Homo sapiens: one gene and its partner. The protein of the gene in region 2 purifies or fractionates together with the protein of the main gene of each other region. This does not show direct contact. Each region holds a gene or a part of one and is shown on either strand. Other genes may lie near its edges.

Region 1 (3,748 bases), on a different chromosome or scaffold from region 2:
CATCATTATATATATTCATGTAACAAAACTGTACATGTACCCTCTGAATCTAAAATAAATGTTAAAATTTTTTTAATTAGCTGTCAAATTTTTAAAAAATAACTATAGGGTATTGACTAGCATTGTGTTACTATATACGTGTGCACACGCACAGTTTGGGAAGAACTGAATTATTTACAACTTTTAGTCTTCCCATCTGCACATTTCTCGCTAATATTCTTGTTTTTTTTTCTAATTGACAAACATTTTTCCCCCATTACAGTTTCTAACTAGTTATTTGGTGATTACTAGTTCTTGTGAAACAGGTATGTTTCCATATCCTCCTTGTACAAATGGCTTAATAGTGCTTAAGGAGTTTATTGTCAAGACATGGAAGACTGCTAAAGACAAGCAAAATAGAATCATTTCTGCCCCTCAGCTTAGGCAGCCCTTGAGGAGGAAATGCCAATTGCTCCCTTTAATGTTTGGAAAGAGAAATGTGATTATTGTAGCTCTTAAGGCAGACAACTAAAAAATCTTGTTGAAATGGATTTCTTCTAGGAATTCAGGGCCTCTCTTCAGACTCTACAAGTCATATGCTCTATTAAAGCATAGTTTCCACGATAACTACTTGCTGGCATAAAGGCCACGAACAGTTCTTACTTTCTGGGGTCATTCTTCAAATTAACAACAAAGTCCACCCCATCCCTTACCCCTACCCCTAGGTATGATAATTTCATCTCCACGAAAACATATTACTGCTAAACCCAAGCGGTTCAGCATGCCACTTTTCGGATCTGATGTCAATTTACAATCCTTCAAAGCTCAAAAGCTACTTTTTCCTTTTGTCAGCAAGACACTTCCACCCTCGTGTGTCTTGTACATACTGATAGGTCACAGCAAACATTCATTGAATTTTAACTGGGAGCATTTTGGATGGAAATCAAGAGACCTGGGATTAACTGTAAAACCCATGATAAATTATACCAAACGAATGAACAAGAAGCAAGCACTACGTGTTTTTCCCTTTGAGACAGTCTCACTGTTACCCAGGCTGGAGTGCAGTGGCTCGATCTCGACTCACTGCAACTTCCGCCTCTCAAGGTAAAGCGATGCTCCTGCCTCAGCCTCCCGAGTGGCTGGGAGTACAGACGCGCACCACCACGCGGGCCATTTTTTTTAAAATTGTTTGTAGAGACGGGTTCTCCCTATGCCTACGCTGCCAAGGGTGGTCTCGAACTCCTGGGCTCAAGAGATTCTCCGGCCTCGGCCTCCCAAAGTGCTGGGATTACAGGCGTGGGCGTGTAAGCATATATATACATGATTTTTTTTTCCCGAGGACCTGGTCCCCGAAGCACCAATTTCCCTCAACAGTCATTTAGAAAACGAGGCTCACAGACAAAACACAAACAAATAACTTTTTCGCTGGAGGATTATAACTGCAATAAAAGGAGATCCCAAAGCAACCTGAGACACTGCCTTGCCCTGATTGGAAAGGGGATTCCGGTGATTAGTGAAAGATGACTCCTGCATCCCTCGCGTGCGTCCGTATCCGGGAGCAGCCACTAGGTAACTGTAGAGGCCACTGCAATTAATCGGCTTGAACAGCCAGGAGCGGAAACCCGAGAGTCAGTTCAACCACAGCCACCCGCGTGTGCCCGCGGAAAGCCGATGGCCTACTCTCGTCCGGCAGCGCACTGGTTTCCTGGGTTACCGGCCTCAGCGCTCCTCCCGCTTTCTTTTCCGGGAGGCGACAATCTGACGCTCTCAGCGCGTGACGCAGCACGCTTTGATATAAATGCAGACCGCGCGGCCGTAGCTTCCTCTCTGCTCTCGCGGCCGACTCGCAAGATGGCGCCGGTGAGTGAGCGATGTCTTGGTGGGAGTGTTGTGTGGCAATTTAATGATTTCCGCTGTAACGATTTTTGCATCTGTCGAGTGGAGACGTCTCAGTCAAGATAAAGGGAGGGGAGTAGTGAAGTCTGGGTCAGAAACACAACCAAGACGCGAGGATCCTGAACTGTTTTTCGAGACTCCCTGGCAGCTGCCATGAGGTCTAGTGGAGTTGGAGCTGGGCCCGGAATTGGTTTAGGATGGGTGGTTTTGGACACGCGGGAAAGAGGGAGGCACAACTGTAAATGGGCCGGTGGTACTGCAATCTGAGCCATTTCTTTACTATCTCGCGCCTGATAATGCTTTTGCCACTCAGCACTGGGTAGGGGAATGGTGGGTAATCGGGCCGGTCTGACGACCTTTGCCAGGCCAGAGGGAGCTCCTAGGCGCTCAGCTCCCGCGATGGCCGACATCACAAGTTTTTGAGAACTTTCAGTTGGGGAAGAAGTTTCTCGGTGAAGTAATTTTTAGAAAAGTATAAGTCTAGATTCCAGCAATGTGAAATAAACGTGCTTCAGATGTTTTACTTAAGTCATTAGTAAGGGAACCAGTAAGATGTTAAAATGTTCCTAAGAATATCTGAAAAGCTAGATATACATGCGCAATTTACAAATAAAGTTAGGATAAAATTGCTGGGCTAGCTACAAAACTGGGTAATGCCCAGCATGGCCATAAACCCTATAGGGTTATCTGTTCCATTAGACAGAAGTTGTTTGTGTCTCCCAAATTAACTTCTGCGCCAACTGGGTAATTATCTTTTGGCACATGTTACCATGCTACCTGAGAAAGCAAACTAATGTGTAATACTTGGTAGCCACTTGGGTGAATCTAAATTGGAGGTTATAGTCTGATAAATACAGATTTGTTTGTTCATATTGCAGTGAATGTACATGGTTGCTGGCCACAGTAACATTTTGCTTATGTAGCCATATTATATGGTCTTGGTATAAAAGGTTTGGATATGGAAAATTTAAGTTCCACGGTGTTGGTTTTTAGGTTTTTTTTTTTTTTTGAGACAGAGTCTGTTGCCCAGGTGGGAGTATAGTGGCATGATCAGGCTCACTACAACCTCCGCCTCCCGGGTTCAAGCAATCCTCCCGACTCAGCCTCCTGAATAGCTAGGATTATAAGCATGCACCACCACACCTGGCTAATTTTTGTATTTTTACTAGAGATGGGGTTTCACCATGTTGGCCAGGCTGGCCTTGAACTCCTGACCTCACGTGATCCTCCTGCCTCAGCCTCCCAAAGTGCTGGGACGGCACCTTGCCTTTTTTATTTTTATTTTTTCTTTTTCTTTTCTTTTCTTTTTTTTTTTTTTTACCAAAGTCCCCTTCCCTTGCCTATAATAACGTAAGAATTGAATTTTCTAGACATAGGTGGGTGGAATCCTAGCTCTGGCACTTACCTGAGCTTGGGCTAGGCAGTATACTAACCTATTCCCATCTGCAGTGGGGTGGCAGAAAAGCACGATAATTTAAAATTGATCATTGGTAGTATAGAAAACAATGAAAGTCCGTAACTTTTTGACAACTTGAACATATTAGGACTTGGTTAGAGGTTCAAATCAACCCCGGCGTGGGTAGTGGTGGTGTTTTTTTATTTATTGTTACATTTCTGTATATGTAACCTAACAGTACATTGTACAGATTGCATTGGTACAAACTTTAAAATTGTTTATATAAATTGAATAAGTTGTTTTATATAGCTACATAATTATTTCTCATTTATGTAGCAGAAAGACAGGAAGCCCAAGAGGTCAACCTGGAGGTTTAATTTGGACCTTACTCATCCAGTAGAAGATGGAATTTTTGATTCTGGAAATTTTGTAAGTATCATTCTACTCGGCTTATTTTTGTAATCAGAGTTATTGATA
Region 2 (3,748 bases):
GTTGGCAGTTGGGCAGGCTGGAAATGCCCCAGAGGCCCTGTCAGCTTAATCAAGGGATTCAGATTACATTTTTCTTTTTCTGAGACGGAGTCTCGCTCTGTCCCCGAGGCTGGAGTGCAGTGGCGGGATCTCGGCTCACTGCAAGCTCCGCCTCCCGGGTTCACCCCATTCTCCTGCCTCAGCTTCCCGAGTAGCTGGGACTACAGGCGCCCGCCACCACGCCCGGCTAATTTTTTGTATTTTTAGTAGAGACGGGGTTTCACCATGTTAGCCAGGATGGTCTCGATCTCCTGACCTTGTGATCCGCCTGCCTCGGCCTCCCAAAGTGCTGGGATTACAGGCATGAGCCACCGCACCCAGCCAGGATTCAGATTACATTTTGAGGACCTTGGAGCCACGGAGGATTTTTTTAAATTTTTAATTGAAATTTTATTGGGTGTATTACGTTCTATACAATTTTATCACCTGTGTGGTTTTCTGTATCTCAAGACACTGAATAGTTCCACCACCACAAAGATCCCTCCTCCTGCCTTTGATAACTACACCCCCTTCCTCTGACCCTTGCCCTCTACTGCCCACCAGAGTCAGGGACTGATCAGTGGGGAGGGTAAGGAGGAGGCAACGGAGAAGACCCCATATCTGCCTGGGAGAGCTCACAGGAGTCAAGGTGGACCGTGAGTTGCAGTGCCAAGTTTGGGGCTTGCCAGGTTAGCTACGGCCATGGGAATGTCCAGGTGAAAGTCTTTCGGGGCCAATGGATTTAAATATCCATGGCTTAGGAGAGAAGCCTGGGCTGGAGGTGAGATTTGGGAGGGGTTTGTCTCCTCAGGGAGTGGAGTAAGAGAGGACTGAGGAAGGAGCCGCCTTTCAGGTGACAGTCTACTTCTGCACAGGGGTCCCTTGTTTTGCAGCTCGCTGCCTCCTTGGGACTGGCAAAGCCCTGCTCTTGCTTAAGGAGCCCTCTCTGTGCAGAGGGCTCTCCCAGCATGCCCATCCCCCACCCGGAGCCTCAGAGCCAGGCACAGGAGGTCCTTCTGCACAATGGCCACGCATTAGCTGTGTCCTGTTCAGTCCCCAAGCACAGGGCTTGTTAATCCCAGCCCTACCATTCCAGGAAGGACCCCAGAGGTCACGGAATCCAAAGCGTTGAATTTACAAAGAAGAAAACTAGTCCTCGGAGAAGAGGCTTGGCCAAGGCCATAGACGTGATCTGCTGGCCGAAAGGGGGCTGTTTATTTACTGGTTCAGGATCGGTTTTCCCCCTACAGGAAAAGGGAGGTGAAACCCAGGCGAGATGGGTGCAAGTTTCTGAACACTTTCATTCGGCAGCTTTAATTGAGCGTGTATTATGTGCCAAGGAGGGCCAGGGTTTTCGGGATAGGAGGTGGACAAGGCACGGGCCCTAAGGCTGGTGGATAAGGACATCGAAGGGTTAAATTCTGGGACGGCTGCAGGGAGGAAAGGGTAGAGGAATCTCCCGAGGAAAGGCCCCCTTCCCGGCATCTCAGGCTCCGGAAACCCGGGCGCGAGGAGCCTGGGAAGGGCTGCCCCGCAGGCCTTGGCCTCCCCCGCGGAGCTCCCTCTGGCCCTGGGAGTGGCCGCTCTCGAATTACAACAAAAGAGGCCGGAGGCCGGGCCTGCTGCGGCGGCCGCCTTCGGGGAAGGGGGTGGGTCCGGGGAGGGGTTTGCCATCCTCCTCTAGTTAAAAGTAAGGGGGAAAAGAGTAAACGCGCGACTCCAGCGCGCGGCTACCTACGCTTGGTGCTTGCTTTCTCCAGCCATCGGAGACCAGAGCCGCCCCCTCTGCTCGAGAAAGGGGCTCAGCGGCGGCGGAAGCGGAGGGGGACCACCGTGGAGAGCGCGGTCCCAGCCCGGCCACTGCGGATCCCTGAAACCAAGTAAGAGCGCTTCCCGCGCCACCCCCTCCCCGAAGCGGTTCGCGAGAAAGCGGGAGCGTCCCTATGGGGTCTCCAGGCTTCGTCCTGCGCGGGGCTGCCTCTCGACAGTGCCTGGGGGTTCCCAAAGACTTCTTGCGGGGAGCGATGCGAGGACGTGCAGGCTAACGGGTCCTCCTGCCGCCCCGGGCGGCCCCGCCCAACCCCACCTCGTACGGGCCGGGCGCGGCGCGGCTGCTGGCGCGCCCGGGGAGCGAGGCGCTGGGTCCCTGGATCGTCCCGAGCGCCCGTAATCAGGCGGGACAGAGCCCGTCAAGTCTCGGTGTGTGCTGGGCGTCTTGGAGAGTGCAGCGTGGCTCCAGGGACAGCGTCTCCGGAATTCTGGCTTTGAGGAGTGGGGCACGCGGGGGACGGGTCGGGAGACAGTGACTGCCCTCGGGGCTGTGGTTTTGGGGATGTAGAGCGTGCTGGGCTGGGACGGAGTGGGGGCGGGGACCCCGGGGGCTGCGCCCGGGAGCTGTAGCGTCCACTGCTTGAACCCGGTTCAACCCCCAGCCTGCTCGAAAGGCTGTTGGGAGCGCGGGAGCGCCGTGAGTCCTGCGGGAGCAGAGGCGCTCTCGGCACGCCAGGTATGCACTCCCAAGTCGCCCTGCCTCTCCGGGGACCAGGGACCCTCTCCCGCCTTCATCACCTAGAAGCCCTGGAGTTGGAAAGAACGGGCACGAGCGAACCCACGGCTACAGCTGATCCCAATCTTGAGCCGTTGGTCCGGTGGTCTGAAGTGCCTACAACTTTTACGCAGGCGCTTTGCCCACCGCGCCCCTTCTCACCAGCCCAAATTTGGAAGCCCTCTGGGTGTGGCTGCCTGCTCGAGGTGTCCCAGGAATCAGCGCTGGAATAGAGATGATTGGGAGAACAAGCGAGGTTCCCTCCTCTCCGTGCCCGAGCTAAGACCATCAAAAAACAGCCGGAGTGCGGGGCGGAGCGGGGCGAGGGTGTGAGGAAGAGAACACCGCAGAACACGGCGAGGGAGGGGGCTGAACTACTCAATATGGTTAGGAAACCCCAAGTCCTGATGAGGGGAGAGATGTGCATGACAGAAACATGCTCCAAATTAGTTTCGTCCCTAAGATCTTGAAACTGCAGAGATCTCAAAAACAATACTTTTTTTTTTTTTCTCCCAGAGGAAGAAAAACGCTGAGGCTCACGGTCACTGAGTTAGTCAATGTGGGGACTGAAACCCATACCTCTTACTCCAGGCCCCTCCCCTACACCACTGCTAGCCTGTCCGTCCTGGAACCCCAAAACAACATTTGTCATCTTTGGTGGAATGAATTAGTTATTGATGGTGTATCATGTACTTAATGGTCAGGGTTGGGGTTTAGGGTGGAAGAGGAAGAGTTCATTTCCCTGGTCAGTTCCCAGATAAGTGACTGACTCACTGGATCCTAACTTGACTAAATTTTTAATCTTTCTCCTCACCTTTGTCCCGTTCCTCTTCCTGGTCCCTAGTATCTGCCCTGGAATGGCCACCAGAGCCATGACAAGATGCGTGCTCCCCATGGGCCCCAGTGGCTACCAAGGCTCTCCCCAAGGAAATTGAGTCTCACTAATCTGTGTGTGCACGCGCGCACGTTTGTGTATGCATGTGTGCACGTGTATGTGTGGGCACATGTATGTGTGCATGTGTGTGTCTCCACACGAGTGTGTTTGTGTATGTGTGTGCACCGGTGTGTGTTTATATGCGCACACAGGTGTGTGTGCGCGGGCACGTGTGTGTGCACGCAATGTGTGTGCATATGTATTCCTGTGTGCATGTGTGCACACCTGTATGTGTATATGTGTATTTGTGT

What was found. The genes of interacting proteins can lie anywhere in the genome.
Region 1: the proteins of LOXL2 (region 2) and RPL22L1 purify together in Homo sapiens (affinity purification with mass spectrometry; 2 studies listed by BioGRID). This does not show direct contact.

What each region holds. Positions count from the first base shown.
Region 1 is NC_000003.12:170,868,250-170,871,997, reverse strand, and holds the start of RPL22L1 (ribosomal protein eL22-like), read left to right. Parts: upstream 1-1,802; 5' UTR 1,803-1,830; coding exon 1,831-1,839; intron 1,840-3,607; coding exon 3,608-3,700; intron 3,701-3,748.
Region 2 is NC_000008.11:23,402,104-23,405,851, reverse strand, and holds the start of LOXL2 (lysyl oxidase homolog 2 precursor), read left to right. Parts: upstream 1-1,731; 5' UTR 1,732-1,898; intron 1,899-3,748. UniProt on the Homo sapiens protein: Mediates the post-translational oxidative deamination of lysine residues on target proteins leading to the formation of deaminated lysine (allysine).